Regions from separate parts of the Homo sapiens genome. Here all the other regions are reported to be linked to region 1. Evidence: microRNA targets listed by miRTarBase, many of them from high-throughput screens and not tested one by one. Region 1 holds a microRNA gene; each other region holds the end of a gene's coding sequence.

Region 1 (4,070 bases):
TGAGGTGATGTTTATCCTAATTACTCTGATTTGATCATTACACTTCATATACATTTATCAAAATATCACTCTGCAGATTATAAATACATACAATTAATATGTGTAAACTAAAATGCAAAGGAAGAAAAACCCAACAAAGCAATTTCTCCACACGTTACCTAATCCACAACAAATGGCTTCTGAAGTTTACCTCAAGTAAAGGCCATAAATATGACTCTTTAAGGTAGAAATCTTAGAAGTAAGAGTTACTTAGCTTAATGCCCTCTAGGTTTATCCATATGTATTTCATTGTAGTGTTAGTAGCAATAAAGTATAGAAACGACCTAATTGCTCATTGAATGGTGACTGATAGTGTTACATATACAGCCATGCACTGTGTATTGCATCAGTCAACAAAAAACCACATATATAAATGTGGTCCAATAAGATTACGATACTGTGTTTTTAGTGTAATTTTTCTTTGTTTTGGTATGTTTAGATGTACGGATGCTATTGTGTTACAATTGCCTATAGCATTCAGTATAATAATAAGCTATACAGAGTTGTAGCCTAGGAGATACAGTCTATGTCATATTGTCTAAGTGTGTAGTACGTTACACTGCTGTGGGACAGGCAAGGCCCCAAACTGGGGCTTAGCCAGGGAGGATTTCTTGCTTAACCCCGGAAAAAATTCAAGGATGAGCTAGGAGTCTTAGCAATCGTTTATTGAATGGTACTGCTCCTTGCAGAGCAGGGCTAAATCATAGGCAGTGCAATCAGAGTCAGCAACATATGGTCTCTTGGCAACGGTATTTATACTCAGCGAGACCCACATTCAATTGCATGCAAATTGAGGGGTGAGCCAATGCAAATTGAGGGGCAGGTTGTTTAGAACTTTCTAAGGCAGGTCAAATGCATGCAAATTGAGGGGTGAGCCAATGCAAATTGAGGGGCAGGTTGTTTAGAACTTTCTAAGGCAGGGGCAGTAACTTTTAGGTTGTTGCCATGGAAAGAGGTGGTAACTTCTGGGTTGTGTTGCCAGGCTGCTCATATTGCTCATTAGCATAAGACACTACCACCAGCACCATGACAATTAAATTGCAATGAGTAGTTAGAGATTGCTTTTGTTGACATCTGCCACTTCCTATCAGTTTCTTCACTTCATGCTCTCTGGCCAGATCCTGTTTTGGTTAGCAGGGTTGTGACCAAAAAAAAGTCCTGCTGAAAGATGAATGGATAGTGTTATATATACAGCCATGCACTGTGTACCCAAACTACAGAGTGCATGGCTGTATATATAACAGCATCCACTCAATACCATCTAGGTTTGGATAAGGACACTCCATGATGTTCAAACAATGATAAAATTGCCTTAAGGTACATTTCCCTGTTAAGCAATGCATGACTGTGTGTGTGTATATATGTATATGACCATGAAATATTATTCAGCCTTAAAATAGAAGGGGATTCTGCCATATGAGGCAACATGAAAGAAATAAGTTCTATTGTTGGGGGTGAATAGCCATGAGAGTGGAGAAGGCCATCAGTTAATCCATGGTTTGTGGCATTGGCCAAGCATGACAAGCAGTGAAACCATATTCAAATATGGAATCAACTTTTCTGACGATGACAACAAACAACTGTTGGCTTTACTATACAAGTCAGAGGCAATTGTAAGGCTCTTTGTTGTTTAATGCCCCACAGGTAAAACTTTTCTGTCCAGGGAATATTCTAGAGCAATACTGTGCAAGAGACCATTGTGTGATAACACGTGTTCTACCCTTGCATAGTCCAATATAGTAGCCTGTAGCCACATGTGCCTTTGAGTATTTCAAATACAGCTAACACAATGGAGGGACTGACTTTTTAATTATTTTAATGTTTAGTTAATTAAACATTAAAATTAACTTTAAATAGCCAAGTGTAGCTCCAAGAAACATCTGGAGCTACCAGGAACTGGAAGAGATAAGAAAGAATTGTCTCCTAGAATCCTGGATTAAATGCAATCCTGCCGACACCCGAGTTTGAACTGGCTTCTAGAACTGGGGGAGAATACATTTCTGTTCTTTTAGCCATTTGTTTTATGCTAATCTGTTATGGCAGCCTGAGGAAACTAAAACAGATGGCTTCGGGGAGAAATTTGAAACAGAAGCAAGAAGTAAAAACAGTAAGAAACAAACAAGTATGTATTCATCACAGAGGTACAGAAATTAACCATCAAATATCCCAGGCCCTAGGGGAGGAAGTGCCACGGTGGCAGCAGCGCTATCTCATCAGACTGTTCCTGTGGGGGGATTTTACTGCCATTCTGGAACCTGGTTTCCATGGGGCTGCCCTGTTCTGAGCCTGTTTCTTTAGCCTTCCAATAATTATATGATTTATCCAATATAATCTATTACCTGGTTTAGGTCAATTGGAATGGATTTCAGTCATCTACAACCAAGAACACTGACAGGTATACTAACACCTGTCAGATAGTATTGTGAATTGTGGGGAAAGTGTTCCTAAACATGACAAAACACAAGAAAGCATTAAAAAATGGTGACAGATATGAGTATTTATGAGTTAGTTAATAAACATATATGACAATTTATATGGAAAACAAAGTATGTGATGCATGATGGATTAGGAAAACATACAATATATGTAACGAAATGATATACAATGTCAATATTTATTTTTAAGAAGCAATACTAAATTACAAAATAAAATATATACAATTCTATAGGAATAGAATGCAAATTACCAATACATACATGAAAATTAGAAAACTTTTGCAATTAGAAAAATATAAATCAAAACAATAGTGTTATACTACTTTTTTCTGAAATTAAATTGCAAAATTAATATATCCAAAGATACTCAACATGATCCATATTAGACATGGATGTGTGAAGAAGGCACTCCAATCTAGGTTTTTAAGGATATAAATTTGTAAAGCCGTGTCTCAAGAATGTGTGACAATAATTCATGAGTGGCAATTTAGTATACGTTAAGCTTTGATCCAGGTAATTTAATTAAGATCTATCTACAAAGATAAACACACTTGCACACAAGTTTCTAAGGGTCAGATGGCTTACTGTACAATTTTCAGGATGTTATTGTATCATTGGTCACATCTTAATTTCTTAATTGTCCATGCCCATGGTTTTATCAGAGAAAATGAGCTAAGAACCCCAGAGACAATGGAGAGTTTGCAATGTAGTTTTTCTTTAATTTTTCATTTTAAGTTCAAGACGTCCGAAGGTGTATCTACTGGCTAGAAAAAATTGATATGTTTCCAATTACATTTCTATACATACATGGATGTGTTTGTGTGTATAGCTTTTTTGTCACAAAACCTGAGGACATACAGATAATAAATGCCTGAGAAGTATGTTGCTCTTCTTAAAATAAAACACATGATGAGTTTCCCTTTTGTTTGAGGAAAGCAGAACAGTGCTTTGCTTCGCATTGAGAATTTATGATTGCCATAAGAAAGCAGTGGTGAGCAGATAAAAGCTGTCACAAAAGAAATTTAAATTGAGCTGAAATTTTTTTTTTTGGCAACAGCTAAATTTTAAAGTTATAAGCAGAGTAACCTTGGGAAATGCCATATATATTAGTATTCTTATTTAACAATGATTGTAATTAAAAGAGCTCATTGCATTAGAAAAGAAAAATCATGCTTAAGACTCTGAAAGTTTAGAATTCCAATAAGGTAAAATAAATGTTACTTCATATTAATGTGGATACTTCATAAATTTTAAAAGTATTTCTGTCTCATCAACTAGAACTCAAAACTTATAGGGCTAAGTACACATTTTTAATTATTTTCTAGTCTAATATTTGAAAATCCACTTTCATTTAAATGATTTCATGAGCTTAATTACCCTAATATACATGGTAGAGTTACGTACATTATCCAGTTTATAGAATAGAAATAAATAAATATATGTTTATTTATTTGTACTGCTTCTGCTTTCATAAATGTAGATGTTTTTTCCTTTTCTTTTGGATAATCATAGCTCTGGTAATATACAGGTGATGTAATATATTTCTTTTTATCATATGCCTTTTTAATTTTCCAAATTAATGAACTAGGTCTAGGA
Region 2 (4,070 bases), not on the chromosome of region 1:
TCCTCCCCGGGGATAGAATGTGACTGATGGTTAGTATCCTGGACCATGGAGATGAGGGCAACACCCTTGATGTAGAAGAGCAATAAGATGGAAGGAGCCTGGGGCTGTGATTGGAATTACCATGTGAGTCCTAGACTGCTTATCCTAGGAGCTCTTAAGTCAAAGAGGAATAAATTGTTCTGTATAAGCTATGCTTATTTTAGGTCTCTATTTCAGCAGCTAATTCATGAGAGTACGAATTTAAAAATACTTGTGAGGTTCAGTGTCAACTGAATGATACGAACAAGATGAGAAACATACTTTTAAAGATATTTAATGATGTTTTTCAAATCAGTACAAAAATTTAAATACAAAAATGATTTGCTATTGACAAGTCTCAAATCTGTCATGGGAACTCAAACAAGTTACCAGTCTGTTCACCGTTCATTGTATTCTATAAAATATTTGATAACAGTCACCCACTACAGACATTCTTTTCCCCTGTGGGATGTCATACTGCATTAAAACTCTGTATTTACATAACAATAATATGAGTTTGGTCCATTTCACATGGAAGAATTCTGGTTAATTTTGAACTAAATAGGGATTATAGCACAATCCCTAGACTTTAGAACACGTGGTTGTTTCATCTGCTTTTACACTAATATGTTAACATGTTGTGCAGCACTCAAAAGGGAAATACAGGCACATAGATAATTATTTAAAACTCTTTTTTAAATTAAATGGAGTATCATTTAGGTCTGAGATTAGCACCATTGTAGAATGCACAGTATTTGGCATAGATGTTGCTCCTCTTCTATCTAAAAGTTAGAAACCTATGTCTGATAATACACATACACACACATGCGCACGCATACACACACGTGCGCTCACGCGCACACACACACACACACACATATATATATATATATAGGCAATTGAGTGACAACCAATAAATAAGTTGGAAGATATTTTGAAAAGTGAAATTTGGTTTTAACTAAAAAGATAATTTCTCTCTTTCTTGGTGGGAATTAAAAGCCCATACATGTACAGATAAATACAATTTTACAAATCACCTGATCTGACTTGCTTTTAAACCATTTCAATGTGGCTGTTTAGCAGAAGGAGCCCAATGGATCCATGCTGCCCACCATAGTCATCAGCCCAAAACCAGTATCCTCAAGAACAACCCAAAGTATATTTGGCCACATAGATGCTGTCTGCTTTGAAAACAAAGGTTGTGGAGGACATCTTTTTGTTGGGAAAAGATTGTTGTATAATTAGTAGTGACAAGAACCCCTGTGGTAATGGACTAATTTCTCTTCTTAAAAATTGAGAAGAAATGGTGCTTGTATACTATATAGGGAAATGAGATATTGGCCAAGAGAAGAATTTTTGTGATGGTAATAATGATTCAGATTTGACAAAGACACATTTCCATGTGTTTTCATACCGTATTTATTTGTGTATTTTTCCATCTATATCTATCCCCTTAACTCATGGTTTTATTTTTGACAAAAATATACAAGATTCCACCACCATAACCCCACATTATTGCTCCAAGTGATAGAGTCAGCAGCAGGCTAATAGCAGGCTCGAAATGGGTCTTTGGTGTTTGGAGACCAGATTAGAATGCCCAAAGCAGTTAGTATGTGCCCAAGCAAAAACCTGGAAAAATATTTATTTCTGCTTTTCAGACTTGTATTGGCCTTTGATTTGTGCCGAGTACAGGATGACATTAAAAACACAGGCTCTTGTTGCCCTTTGACATTCTACATAGCCCTTCCACAGTCCGCTTCTAAGGAAACAGTTCTTTTCCTATACTTTTACTACCTACACCCAGAAGCAGCACATCTGTTTTTAAATTCGAAATTTCAGAATTATTTTTTCAAATATTAATTTTTCTATGTAATTCTGAAACTCCCCCCTCACCAATTATGGCTTGGATTTTGAAAGCTGACTTTGGCCGGGCACGGTGGCTCATGCCTGTAATCCCAGCACTTTGGAAGGCTGAGGCAGGTGCATCACTTGAGGCCAGGAGTTTGAGACCAGCCTGGCCAACATGGCGAAAACCCATCTTTACTAAATATACAAAAATTAGCCAGGCATGGTGGCGCAAGACAGTAGTCCCAGTACTCGGGAGGCTGAGACAGGACAATTGCTTGAACCTAGGAGGTAGAGGTTGCAGTAAGCCAAGATCGTGCTACTGCACTCCAGCCTGGGTGACAGAGTAAGACTCCATCTCAAAAAAAAAAGAAAAAAATTGACTTTGGAACCTCAGATTACATATCAGTTTGCATACATGCTAAACAGAGAAATGTCCTCAAAATTCAGTTACTAAAAATTACTGATATCTCCATGATTAGAACCACACTGTGGTTGTGTGTGTAGTCAAAGGAGGAGAATTTTTAATGCTATATAAGCATAACTGATAACTGCTATTACAAATAAATATTCCACAAATTTGGAAAGTTATTAGAGGAAGAATTTTTTTTCCTTGTAATTTCCAGGTGTTTATATTAGTTGGGCCATAGTGAAAATTACATGGAGGAAAGAAAATAGGAAAATAAGTCACAGAAAAAGAAAATCAAAACAAATAGAAACTCTGGGGAACAAGTGAGTTAATTACTGCTCATGTCTCCCATCCGGTTCTCTAGCTCCTTGAGGGTTACTGTCTAATGCTCCACAAAAGTGCCTTACCCAGTGCTTGGTACAGAGAAGGCACTGAATAAATTCACAAAGGCCGATTGGTTCACCCATTCTTTTAGAGACAACAGACACGCAATTCTGACGAGGACTCCTGTTACTAAAAGACACAGCCTCTGATACAAGAGAGATATCCCTTTGACTAAAGCATTACCAGGGTCCCCAGGGCCCCCTCCCACTGGGGCGGTAACACTACGGGTCTCCCCACCATATATTCCATGTCAAAGTATCTACACAAATACAGAGGAAATTAAGCAAGTAAATACGGTATGTAATTGTTATCATTTGTATTTCTTTAAGGCATATTTATAAATATTTTAAAGTAAACAATATGAGTGAGTGCCTTTCATTAGCTATGATCTTTCATACTGATATATTTTGACTGATCTGAATAAGCAGGTTACTGTGGAAGCATATAACATAAAACAGCTAATATGATTCCAGTGGGTACAACCAAGTGTCAGTACTTGATACATAACTCTATCCCATCATTCGCAATTACAGGCTGCTGTGTGGAGTATTAAACATGCATCTTAGTTTTTATTTGTACACAATGGTCCAAATTTTCACTTACATATAACTTTCCAACTGTGTAAGTGTTTTGAAGCAATTATGTTTTTCATTTGGATTTTTTGGTGTGTCATTTTCTTCTATAAAATCTCTTTCTTTTCTTTGTTTTTTGTTTTTTTGTTTTTACATGGGATACAATAAATATCCTGAAAAGGAGGAGTGGACATACTGCCCGGCATACAGTCCTGCAGCCTGTTCTGAGGGCATCTGGAGGAACACCCGGTCTCCGGGCCTGAGCAGCAGCACTGCACTCCCAGATGCCTGGTCCAGGAAGCCCTTTTTGTACTCGTCGTACGTGTACATCACGGGCTCGTTGTTCTTGAATAGAGCAACCCACACGTTGCCCCCCTTGCAGTGAACGTGGTATGCAAAGTAGTAGACACCAGGGACCTCACAGGTGAAGATGCCTGTCTGCGGGTTGTAGTTCTGTCTGCCGTTATACAGCAGTTTGTTAAACTTCACTGGGGCCCCCACCGGTGGGAAAGGTGCGGTTAGCTCGGCGGTAAATGCAGGCATCTCATAGGCTGGCCCTCCATTCTTGCCTTTCTTAGCCCCGTAGGCATGGGGGGGTTTCACGCCATCAATTCCCAGCCCCATATCTGGCAGATACTCTCCCTGGGGTGGTGGTGTAGGGGGCATCACAGCTGGGGGTCCTGGAGGTCCTGGAGGGCCTGGGGGTCCTGGAAGGCCAGGCTGGCCTTGAGGACCAAGGGCACCAGGCTTCCCTGGGGGGCCATGAAGTCCTGCCACTCCGGGTTTCCCTATACCAGGGAACCCAGGGGGCCCTGGGAGGCCCGGCTCCCCTTTGGGGCCTG
Region 3 (4,070 bases), not on the chromosome of region 1:
GCAGTGGCATGATCTCGGCTCATTGCAACCTCCGCCTCCTGGGTTCAAGCGATTCTCTTGCCTCAGTCTCCCACCTCCCAAGTAGCTGGGATTACAGGCATGTGCCACCACACCCAGCTAATTTTTGTATTTTTAGTAGAGACGGGGTTTCACCATGTTGGTCAGGCTGGTCTCGAACTTCTTACCTTGTGATCCACCTGCCTCAGCCTCCCAAAGTGCTGGGATTACAGGCATGAGCCACCGTGCCTGGCCAAGTTTTTACTTTTGATAAATATTTGCTAGTCATCAAGGTGACAGCAGTTCTTAATACAGGTTTTCCTTTTATTAATTGCCTTAAACATTTTCCAGCTTTAAAATTCTGTCATTACAGGTTTTGAAATCTAAGTTTTTCTCTTATCAGGTAAACACTCGATAATCTGGATAACTGACTAGCACCATTATGATCACCAGTATTGTGGCTGGAATGGAAGAAGATCACCTTGGTGTTCCTTGTTTGGAAGATTATTTCCTCTGAATTTCTGGGCTTGGTCTTCCAGTTGGCATTTGCCTGAAGTTGTATTGAAACAATTTAATGAAAATATTAAATATTTGGTTTCAAAAGGCAGATTTATCTTCTCCCAACATTCTGTTATTTCTGATACTTTTGAAAAACTAATAAAAACTAATAAAAGAAGCGTAAAAAGTGAGTTTACATGTTGAGGAAAAAAATGGCCCAATATGCTCATCACTGATAAATGCTCCCTGGCCTTAAAAACTACCAACATATAATATATATGCTGTCTTAAAAGTTAATGATCCAAGTGGCACCTCTCTGAACCTACTTTGGCTTGGGAGGCTGCCCAGTTAAAACAAAAATAAGTTAATGGTACAGAAAGAGAATGAAAAATGAAAGCCTCCTTTTATCCTATCATCCTAATTCCTTTTCCCAGTAATAATGACTGCTGTGTTGGATTCCTTCTGCAAATAAAAGTGTATACATATATGTAGCAAATCTTACTTAAACAAAAGGGTTTCTTAACTAATGTCTTGTTCCAGTGATTTTAAACATCTTGATTGCCACTGTCCTGATCTAAGCATCAGTGTCATCTCACCATGAAGAGTGTCAAATCTGTAACTAGTCTCTTCCCTTTAGCCACCTTCCAATCTATTTATTTCGCACATATTGAAGTCTAGTGATTTTTTTTTTTTTAGAGAAAAGCTCATCACCCAGGCTGGAGTGCAGTGGCGTGATCATAGGTCACTGCAGCCTTGAACTCCTGGACTTGAGCTAAGAATAAAGAATCCTGCTTTATTCTTTAGAATAGCTACAGCTACAGGTATGTGCCACCATCCCTATATATATATGTGTGTGTATATATATATATATATATATTTTTTTTTTTTTTTTTCAGAAATGGGATCCCACTATGTTGCCCAGGCTGGTTTTGAACTCCTGGCCTTAAACAGTCCTGCCTTGGTCTTCTAAAGCCCTGGGATTAAAGGCACTTAGTCAAGCACTCTTTTTGTAAAAGCTTTCATACCTTTGAGTAAAGGCTAGACCTTTTAAGGTCGATCAAAAGTTTGGCCTAAACAATCTGGTATTTCAGCTACCATCTCCTTGAGTATTTCACAAGGAGTTTCATGAAAGCAACTAGGCCCCTCTAGCATTGTGGAGAAAGGATTTCAGCCAAACAGTCTGAAGCTCCTTTTGTGTTCATCATGAAACTGAAATAGTTAACTAACTTGGTAAGTGTCTAATATTTTTAGATAAAGATTTCTGTATTATCTGGAATTTAGTACTTCAATTTATTCCTCACTTTGATAAGAACGTGAAATATGTTAATTCTAGCTGCCATAAAACAGTTGAATCAGGTATATCCTAAAATCATAAGTCAAAATACCTAATCCATATTTAAACATCTGTCAGTTACTCAGCACAAGATGTTTTTTTTTTCAGTGGCAGTGCCTTGCCATGTTGCTTCGGCAGGAGTGGTGGCTATTCATGTGTGAAGATCATAGCTCACTATAACTTCAAACTCCTGGGCTCAAGTTTGCCACAGCCTCCCAAGTAACTAGCACTACAGGCCTGTGCCACTGCACCCAGATAGCAGAAAGTTTTTTTTGTTTGTTTTTTTGAGACAGAGTCTCGCTCTCACCCAGGCTGGAGTGCAATGGTGCCATCTTGGCTTACCACAACCTCCGCCTCCCAGGTTTAAAGCAGTTCTGCCTCAGTCTTCCGAGTAGCTGGGATTATAGGTGCACGCTGCCACACCCGGCCAGTTTTTGTATTTTTAGTAGAGATGGGGTTTTACCGTGTTGGCCAGGCTGGTCTTGAACTCCTGACCTCGTGATCCGCACATCTCGGCTTCCCAAAGTGCTGGGATTACAGGCATGAGTCACCATGCCCAGCCAAGTGTTTTTGTTTTATGTGTTTTGACACAGGGTCTTGCTCTGTCGCCCAGGCTGGAATGCATTGGCACAACTATGGCTCACTACAGCCTCAACTTTCCAAGGCTCAAGCAGTCCTTCCACCTCAGCCTCCCTAGTAGCTGGGACTACAGGCGCACACCACCATGCCTGGCTAATTTTTGTATTTTTTTTTCACAGAGACGAGGTCTCGCTGTGTTACCCAGGCTGGCGTTTAATTCCTGGGCTCAAGCTATCCTTACCTTGGCTTCCCAAAGTGCTAGGATTACAGGCATGAGCCACCATGCCCAGCCTAACAGCACAAAGCTTTTTGTTCATAGGTTATGCCTAAATAATACAAATAGTGTGTATAGCAGCATTCTTCGAATTCTTCCAGCCGGACGTGGTTGCTCACGCTTGTAATCCCAGCACTTTGGGAGGCCGAGGCGGGTGGATCACAAGGTCAGGAGTTTGAGACCAGCCTGGCCAACATGGTGAAACCCCGTCTCTACTAAAGGTAGGAAAAAAAAAAAAGCCGGGCATAGTGGCAGGCACCTGTAATCCCAGCTACTGGGGAGGTTTCAAGAGTAGTATGAACATTGTATTACCCTCCACTTAGATTTAGCTATTAATTGACCTTTTGTTACATAGTTAGGTAACAGAAGTCATTGCAGTATGCAAAATGGAGACAACACCCAAAAACTTTAGCACAAAGGAAGCCTAATAAGTTTTACCCATGTTAAATGGTTATGAAGTACTGTATTAATACGTCCATCTCAAGAAAAAAGAAAACAATTGTAAGAAAACAGTTCTGTAATGTCCAACACCCAATCCGTGTTCAGATTTTTCTGACAATCTCTAGAGCAGGGGTGTCCAATCTTTTGGCTTCCCTGGGCCACGTTGGAAGAAGAATTCTCTTGGGCCAAACCATAAAATACACTAATACTAACAATAGCTAATGAGCTAAAAAAAAAAAAAATACATATATAAAATGTTTTAAGAAAATTTACGAATTTGTGTTGGGTCACATTCAAAGCTGTCCTGGGCTGCTTGTGGCTTGTGGGCTGCAGGTTAGACAAGCTTGCTCTAGAGTGTCTTTTTTTTTTTTTTAATTTTTTTGAGATGGAGTTTTGCTCTTGTCGCCCAGGCTGGAGTGCAATGGTGTGATCTCAGCTCACTGCAACTTCCGCCTCCCAGGTTCAAGCCATTCTCGTGCTTCGGCCTCCCTAGTAGCTGGGATTACAGGCACGTGCCACCACATCTAGCTCATTTTTGGTTTTTTGTTTTTTTTTTTTCAGTAGAGACGGGGTGTCACCATGTTGCCTAGGCTGGTCTTGAACTCCTGACCACAGTTGATCCACCTGCCTCAGCCTCCCAAAATACTGGGATTACAGGTGTGAGCCACCATGCCCAGCCTGAGCCCACACCCAGCCACCTTTTTCTTACTCAGCCTCTCAACAGATTGGATGATGCTGACCAGCACTGGGGAGGGCTATCTGCTTTATTCAGTCCACCAATTCAAATGTTAAATCTCCTTCAGAAACACCTTCACAGACACTCCCAGAAATGTTTTAACCAAATATCCCTTGGCCAGGTTGACACATTAGGCATCATAAATCTACCCACTGTCAACTTGGCCATCATATACATCTTTTTTTTTTTTTTTTTTTTTGAGACGGAGTCTC
Region 4 (4,070 bases), not on the chromosome of region 1:
AGAGACTGATTTTTTTCTTTGAAGTTATAACATTTTGTTACCTGAACTGGCTTCTTTTTTTTTTTTTTTTTTTGTCCTGAGATGGAGTCTTGCTCTGTCACCTAGGCTGGAGTGCAGTGGTGCAATCTCAACTCACTGCAACTTCTGCCTCAAGGGTTCAAGCAATTCTCCCGCCTCAGCCTCCTGAGTAGCTAGGATTACAGGTGTGCGCCACCATGCCCGGCTAATTTTTTTGTATTTTTAGTAGAGACAGGGTTTCACCATGTTGGCCAGACTGGTCTTGAACTCCTGACCTCGTGATCTGCCCACCTCGGCCTCCCAAAGTGCTGGGATTACAGGCGTGAGCCACCACGCCTGGCCTGAACTGGCTTCTAATTGGTTGGTTAAGTAAGAAGAGATTGAATGAAAGACAGACTTTCAATTCTAATTCAGATATTCTTTTCTACACAGAAACATTGTCAATTGTTGCTGTGGAACTAGAACTGAAGGATTTCATGAATGTTCTCCCAGAAGATGGTACTGCAACATTTTTCTTGCCATATCTTCTCTATTGCAGTCGAAAGAAACCATTGACTTAAAGGTATCATTTGAAAAATACCATAATGGCATTTGAGACTGAATTTCTAAAAATTGAATGCCAAAGTACAAGTAGAGGAGTTTTTTATTTTATATATCACACACACACACACACACACACACACACACACACACATATATGATACAAATGCTTTCAGGCTGCTTACCTTACCGTGTAGTGGTAACTATTCACTTCTTAATTTATGACCTCAATCAATTTAATTGTCTAGAATGTAAAAAGTCTTTAAGACATAAGAATTCCTCAAAGAAGCCATACATTTTTTAAGGTGGGGATTGACTTTTATTCCAAGGAACAACATCAGTTCACTGTTGTTGGAGACATGACAATCATTTTCATCCCAAGAACACTTTAAGGAAACATTTTACAAGTATGCTTGAAAGAATGTCACTAACTGGTCCAGAATTTTATCTTCTTGATTTTTCCAGATTTCTCTATGTTTTTGAGAAAGATGTTAATGTTTTGCCATGGTAAAAGATTTCAAACCTCATTTTTTTTGTTCCTTTTCTTGTTACTTTTAAGAAAACTCATGCTCTGTTTCTCTGAATCAAATGAAGTAGAAGTTTACAAAGCTAACTTTCTTCTTGTCTAGCTATTAACATGATTTGTCAAATGCATGTTTTTTTCAGCCAAAGCCTTGTTTCCATTTTTGTTGATGTGTACTCTTGCTCTTTTAGCTAGAGTGTATGTGAAAATAAAGAAATACATCATTGTATTCACAACCATGTGTCTTCATTTATAACTTTTTGTTTAAAAAATTTTTAGTTCAAGTTTAGTTCATTGATATTATCCTCTGAATGCAGTTAAGGCTGGGCAGAAATTCTACTCATGTGACATCTGCCACAGGTCTATTTTGAAGCTTTTCTTCTAATGGCAATGTTTGTCCTTACCAGGATTTAATCTATAGAATTGTCTCTCAACTCTGCTTTTCTCCAGTTCCAGATAACGTCCTTAAGACCATCTGTTCAGGGGTTCACAAAACTCAAATTTGTGTCATTCTATTTTATTTATTTTATTTTTTATTTCCTTCCCTCATACCTTGCCCATTCCCTCTGAATATTAGGTGTGATGTCAACAGCATGTTAGAAGGATCAATGGGAAGGCAATGATTGAAAACATTTCAATGAACCTTAATAGTGTTCCTTTGAGGAGCACCCAGGAGAATATCTGGTCATAGATCTTTTTTTAAATGCAGTTTTATAAAACCCTAACAGCGGTGATATCATTAGACTGTATGAATCAGTTTTATTACCTAGTGTACAAGTGTCAGTCATGTATCATTATATAGTCTGTTGATCTTTCCATTTGCAAAAAATTAATAGTTTTCCCCCACAAATGTACAAAGTTGTATGCTTCCAGTCTTCTTTTAATGTTTATAGTCATTCCAAAGTAACATTCTATTTTACACTTTCACATACATTGTTATGAATCATTGGTTTTTCTCTTTTTTCCACTTATCACCAATTTATTTCATTCAGCCAGATTTGGTGTCTATAGAAAAAGAAATTTTAAGACCATTATTAAAAATAATATATGGTTAGAAATTAGTAGATGGTTCTTTAAATGTATTCCAATTTTTAATGTTACTTTACTCCTGATTCATTTATATTTTTCTGCTTTTTATATGTTTAAAAATCTCTCATTCTATTGCTGCTTTATTTAAAGAAAGATTACTTTCTTCCCTACAAGATCTTTATTAATTGTAAAGGGAAAATGAATAACTTTACAATGGAGACACCTGGCAGACACCATCTTAACCAAAGCTTGAAGTTAACATAACCAGTAATAGAACTGATCAATATCTTGTGCCTCCTGATATGGTGTACTAAGAAAAACACAACATCATGCCATGATAGTCTTGCCAAAAGTGCATAACCTAAATCTAATCATAAGGAAACATTAGACAAACTCAAATTGAAGGACATTCTACAAAGTGCCCTTTATTAAGGAATTATTCAGAGTAAAGGAGACTTAAAAGACATGGCAACAATGCAGTACATGATCCGGGATTTTCTTTTTCTGTAAAGAACATGATTAGGATTATTAGCGAAATTTGAAGATCTCTAGTTTTTAAATCATTGTTGCTTTTCTAATTTCGATCATTGTATTGTGGTCATGTACAAGAATATTCTTGTTTTTAGGAAAGATAGTTGTATGTGTATCTATACACGTCTGTGTGTGTACATATAGAGGGTGAGCATGAGAGGGAGATAGGGAAAAGAATGAGAAAGCCAATGTGGCTACGCACATCATTAATATTTGGGGAATCTGGGTGAAAGGTATATGGGAATCTGAAATTATGTCAAAAAAGTTTCAAAAGTTTCTCTTCATTGAATTAATATGTTGTTATACATTCAGTAAGCAAACTATTGTATTGGATTTGGGTACTTAGCTAGAAATACAGAATATATAGTCCCTGCCTGTAAGAAATTTAAAGCTAAGCAGGCTTTTCTAAGACTCATAATTAATGTAAACTTGCTCAAAGCTTTATTGGACTTATTTAAAGATGATTCAGACTGATAAACATGGCCACTGATTTTATGGGCCAAAGATAGTTCAAACTATCTTTTTTTATTCAGTCTGCTGCTTTCAGTCTCATGCAATACCTTTTCTCTTTGCAAAAGTCAAATTTCTCTTTAATTTTTTATCTAGTGTTGATTTTTACTTCATATTTGCTATTTGTTCTGTAATTTTTACTATAGCTTTAAAAACTATCTCGCCTTTCTTAACCAAGCAGTAATCTCCCTCTTCTTTCACGGTTGTTACACAGGAGGAATCTTCTCTGTGGCTGTGTGTGTAGGGTTACCCTGTAGTGCCATACTCTGCATGCCAGGCATTTGCACACATGAATTCCCCAAATGCCTCCATGTTACTTACTCACCATTATTTTTTTGAGCAAGACCATCCTTTTGTGTGGTTTACATGCAACCACATGTAACCACATGGTTGCAAGTGTTATTTAAAGACTAAAGTTTTCTTTCTCATATTTGGCTCTCTTCACTTTGTTCAAGTTATTGGCGTTAAATTTAGTGGCTTGTCTGTTAGAGTCTTTGATATTCTAGTGTTATCAGTGACTGCTCTAATAAAAAGGGCATTAATGGAAATAGTTTTTCATGATGTAAGTTGTTTGTGTAAGACCCAGGAGCAGAAATTAAAACTTTCCATTTGCACTAAAGGTTAACCTTTCAGGGCTTTTTAAATCTTCAAATATATTTACATTTATATTTTCTTCATTTGTATGTTCCCTTTTTCCCCATTTTAGGGAGGAAAGACATAGATTGGTTTTCTTTACATAATTTCCTCCCTTTGAATTTACCATTTCTAATTACAACAATCCTCAACTCGAAAGACCCAGGAAAGACCAAAGCCTGCAGCCACAGTGCAGGAATCTTACCAAAAAAACTGTTCATTTTTCTCCATTTTAAGTGTGTGTGTGTGTGTGTGTGTGTGTACCTACACATGGGGAGGGTTATTG
Region 5 (4,070 bases), not on the chromosome of region 1:
GCTTTATTTATACCTGCACTTTATTTCTTCTTTCCGAATTTACTCTCCTGGGATGTGAAGCATTTCTCTCAACCTTCCAATTTGGGGAGAATTTGCACCAAAAATTCTGGGAGGCCAAGAGGTACGGAAGTAGAGGACCACATCATATGTCCCCTCCTGCCTCAAAGAGAAGCATCAGGTTGAAGTTTAGGGGAAATTCTCATGATTCTTTCTCTCATACTCTACTGGATTTTATGCTCAATTAAATTAATCCCATTGAATAGGAAAATTAGTTCCAGCTTGTACTCTCACGTCTACATCTAAGTTATTGAGGAACCATGGGCAAGTCATTTGACGTGTCGGGGGAAGGGGAGGGTGGTTATCTGCCAGAGATATATTAACGTGTGCTCTGCCTAACTCCCAGGGTGTTTAAGCCTAAACGAGTCAACAGGTGCGTGTTTTTGAAAGCTCACTACTCCCCATCCTCTTCCTATATATCCATATATATCCAATAAAATCTGACTATTGTTTTCTAAAGTATATTGATTGGAAGAGTTGTTATCGAATCCAGTAATCTTGAATTGGAATGATTGAGTTAATGGCCATCAGCAAAGTGTGTATCTAAACTGGCTTGTGTTTTTTTTCAGATTCAAACTCAGATGACTTTGACCCTGCTTCCACCAAGAGCAAGTATGACTCTCTGGATTTTGATAGTTTACTGAAAGAAGCTCAGAGAAGCTTGCGCAGGTAACATGTTCCCTAGCTGAGGATGACAGAGGGATGGCGAATACCTCATGGGACAGCGCGTCCTTCCCTAAAGACTATTGCAAGTCATACTTAGGAATTTCTCCTACTTTACACTCTCTGTACAAAAACAAAACAAAACAACAACAATACAACAAGAACAACAACAACAATAACAACAATGGTTTACATGAACACAGCTGCTGAAGAGGCAAGAGACAGAATGATATCCAGTAAGCACATGTTTATTCATGGGTGTCAGCTTTGCTTTTCCTGGAGTCTCTTGGTGATGGAGTGTGCGTGTGTGCATGTATGTGTGTGTGTATGTATGTGTGTGGTGTGTGTGCTTGGTTTAGGGGAAGTATGTGTGGGTACATGTGAGGACTGGGGGCACCTGACCAGAATGCGCAAGGGCAAACCATTTCAAATGGCAGCAGTTCCATGAAGACACGCTTAAAACCTAGAACTTCAAAATGTTCGTATTCTATTCAAAAGGAAATATATATATATATATATATATATATATATATATATATAAATTAAAAAGGAAAGAAAACTAACAACCAACCAACCAACCAACCAACCACAAACCACCCTAAAATGACAGCCGCTGATGTCTGGGCATCAGCCTTTGTACTCTGTTTTTTTAAGAAAGTGCAGAATCAACTTGAAGCAAGCTTTCTCTCATAACGTAATGATTATATGACAATCCTGAAGAAACCACAGGTTCCATAGAACTAATATCCTGTCTCTCTCTCTCTCTCTCTCTCTCTCTTTTTTTTTTCTTTTTCCTTTTGCCATGGAATCTGGGTGGGAGAGGATACTGCGGGCACCAGAATGCTAAAGTTTCCTAACATTTTGAAGTTTCTGTAGTTCATCCTTAATCCTGACACCCATGTAAATGTCCAAAATGTTGATCTTCCACTGCAAATTTCAAAAGCCTTGTCAATGGTCAAGCGTGCAGCTTGTTCAGCGGTTCTTTCTGAGGAGCGGACACCGGGTTACATTACTAATGAGAGTTGGGTAGAACTCTCTGAGATGTGTTCAGATAGTGTAATTGCTACATTCTCTGATGTAGTTAAGTATTTACAGATGTTAAATGGAGTATTTTTATTTTATGTATATACTATACAACAATGTTCTTTTTTGTTACAGCTATGCACTGTAAATGCAGCCTTCTTTTCAAAACTGCTAAATTTTTCTTAATCAAGAATATTCAAATGTAATTATGAGGTGAAACAATTATTGTACACTAACATATTTAGAAGCTGAACTTACTGCTTATATATATTTGATTGTAAAAACAAAAAGACAGTGTGTGTGTCTGTTGAGTGCAACAAGAGCAAAATGATGCTTTCCGCACATCCATCCCTTAGGTGAGCTTCAATCTAAGCATCTTGTCAAGAAATATCCTAGTCCCCTAAAGGTATTAACCACTTCTGCGATATTTTTCCACATTTTCTTGTCGCTTGTTTTTCTTTGAAGTTTTATACACTGGATTTGTTAGGGGAATGAAATTTTCTCATCTAAAATTTTTCTAGAAGATATCATGATTTTATGTAAAGTCTCTCAATGGGTAACCATTAAGAAATGTTTTTATTTTCTCTATCAACAGTAGTTTTGAAACTAGAAGTCAAAAATCTTTTTAAAATGCTGTTTTGTTTTAATTTTTGTGATTTTAATTTGATACAAAATGCTGAGGTAATAATTATAGTATGATTTTTACAATAATTAATGTGTGTCTGAAGACTATCTTTGAAGCCAGTATTTCTTTCCCTTGGCAGAGTATGACGATGGTATTTATCTGTATTTTTTACAGTTATGCATCCTGTATAAATACTGATATTTCATTCCTTTGTTTACTAAAGAGACATATTTATCAGTTGCAGATAGCCTATTTATTATAAATTATGAGATGATGAAAATAATAAAGCCAGTGGAAATTTTCTACCTAGGATGCATGACAATTGTCAGGTTGGAGTGTAAGTGCTTCATTTGGGAAATTCAGCTTTTGCAGAAGCAGTGTTTCTACTTGCACTAGCATGGCCTCTGACGTGACCATGGTGTTGTTCTTGATGACATTGCTTCTGCTAAATTTAATAAAAACTTCAGAAAAACCTCCATTTTGATCATCAGGATTTCATCTGAGTGTGGAGTCCCTGGAATGGAATTCAGTAACATTTGGAGTGTGTATTCAAGTTTCTAAATTGAGATTCGATTACTGTTTGGCTGACATGACTTTTCTGGAAGACATGATACACCTACTACTCAATTGTTCTTTTCCTTTCTCTCGCCCAACACGATCTTGTAAGATGGATTTCACCCCCAGGCCAATGCAGCTAATTTTGATAGCTGCATTCATTTATCACCAGCATATTGTGTTCTGAGTGAATCCACTGTTTGTCCTGTCGGATGCTTGCTTGATTTTTTGGCTTCTTATTTCTAAGTAGATAGAAAGCAATAAAAATACTATGAAATGAAAGAACTTGTTCACAGGTTCTGCGTTACAACAGTAACACATCTTTAATCCGCCTAATTCTTGTTGTTCTGTAGGTTAAATGCAGGTATTTTAACTGTGTGAACGCCAAACTAAAGTTTACAGTCTTTCTTTCTGAATTTTGAGTATCTTCTGTTGTAGAATAATAATAAAAAGACTATTAAGAGCAATAAATTATTTTTAAGAAATCGAGATTTAGTAAATCCTATTATGTGTTCAAGGACCACATGTGTTCTCTATTTTGCCTTTAAATTTTTGTGAACCAATTTTAAATACATTCTCCTTTTTGCCCTGGATTGTTGACATGAGTGGAATACTTGGTTTCTTTTCTTACTTATCAAAAGACAGCACTACAGATATCATATTGAGGATTAATTTATCCCCCCTACCCCCAGCCTGACAAATATTGTTACCATGAAGATAGTTTTCCTCAATGGACTTCAAATTGCATCTAGAATTAGTGGAGCTTTTGTATCTTCTGCAGACACTGTGGGTAGCCCATCAAAATGTAAGCTGTGCTCCTCTCATTTTTATTTTTATTTTTTTGGGAGAGAATATTTCAAATGAACACGTGCACCCCATCATCACTGGAGGCAAATTTCAGCATAGATCTGTAGGATTTTTAGAAGACCGTGGGCCATTGCCTTCATGCCGTGGTAAGTACCACATCTACAATTTTGGTAACCGAACTGGTGCTTTAGTAATGTGGATTTTTTTCTTTTTTAAAAGAGATGTAGCAGAATAATTCTTCCAGTGCAACAAAATCAATTTTTTGCTAAACGACTCCGAGAACAACAGTTGGGCTGTCAACATTCAAAGCAGCAGAGAGGGAACTTTGCACTATTGGGGT

What was found. Region 1 holds the annotated microRNA hsa-miR-5011-5p (UAUAUAUACAGCCAUGCACUC, at 1,259-1,279, opposite strand). A microRNA usually pairs through its seed, bases 2 to 8, with sites in the 3' UTR of a target mRNA and lowers its output. Matches are read on the target gene's strand: a 7mer-m8 pairs with bases 2 to 8, a 7mer-A1 pairs with bases 2 to 7 and ends in A, and an 8mer does both.
Region 2: miRTarBase lists COL8A1 as a target of hsa-miR-5011-5p. Seed matches in the 3' UTR shown: 8mer at 905-912, 8mer at 903-910, 8mer at 901-908, 8mer at 899-906, 8mer at 897-904 and 7mer-m8 at 896-902.
Region 3: the mRNA of CCT4 is a reported target of hsa-miR-5011-5p. Seed matches in the 3' UTR shown: 7mer-A1 at 768-774 and 7mer-m8 at 769-775.
Region 4: miRTarBase lists HPS3 as a target of hsa-miR-5011-5p. Seed matches in the 3' UTR shown: 7mer-m8 at 668-674.
Region 5: the mRNA of PPARGC1A is a reported target of hsa-miR-5011-5p. Seed matches in the 3' UTR shown: 7mer-A1 at 1,222-1,228, 8mer at 1,223-1,230, 8mer at 1,225-1,232, 8mer at 1,227-1,234, 8mer at 1,229-1,236, 8mer at 1,231-1,238 and 13 more.

Annotation. Positions count from the first base shown.
Region 1 is chr18:67,078,816-67,082,885 of GRCh38, reverse strand. It overlaps MIR5011 (microRNA 5011), which reads right to left and starts at 1,302; the gene lies at 1,200-1,302.
Region 2 is chr3:99,795,445-99,799,514 of GRCh38, reverse strand. COL8A1 (collagen type VIII alpha 1 chain) reads right to left here. Exons shown (of 4, transcript NM_020351.4): 4 at 298-4,070. The coding sequence ends at 3,379. Among named protein-coding and RNA genes, the nearest start is that of CMSS1, 20 kb to the left of the region's middle.
Region 3 is chr2:61,865,037-61,869,106 of GRCh38, reverse strand. CCT4 (chaperonin containing TCP1 subunit 4) reads left to right here. Exons shown (of 14, transcript NM_006430.4): 14 at 401-1,022. The coding sequence ends at 415. Among named protein-coding and RNA genes, the nearest start is that of FAM161A, 13 kb to the right of the region's middle.
Region 4 is chr3:149,171,645-149,175,714 of GRCh38, forward strand. HPS3 (HPS3 biogenesis of lysosomal organelles complex 2 subunit 1) reads left to right here. Exons shown (of 17, transcript NM_032383.5): 17 at 451-2,088. The coding sequence ends at 578. It overlaps CP (ceruloplasmin), which reads right to left. Exons shown (of 19, transcript NM_000096.4): 19 at 853-2,086. The coding sequence ends at 2,070. Among named protein-coding and RNA genes, the nearest start is that of HPS3, 44 kb to the left of the region's middle.
Region 5 is chr4:23,792,482-23,796,551 of GRCh38, reverse strand. It overlaps PPARGC1A (PPARG coactivator 1 alpha), which reads left to right. Exons shown (of 13, transcript NM_013261.5): 13 at 627-4,070. The coding sequence ends at 730. Among named protein-coding and RNA genes, the nearest start is that of PPARGC1A-AS1, 25 kb to the right of the region's middle.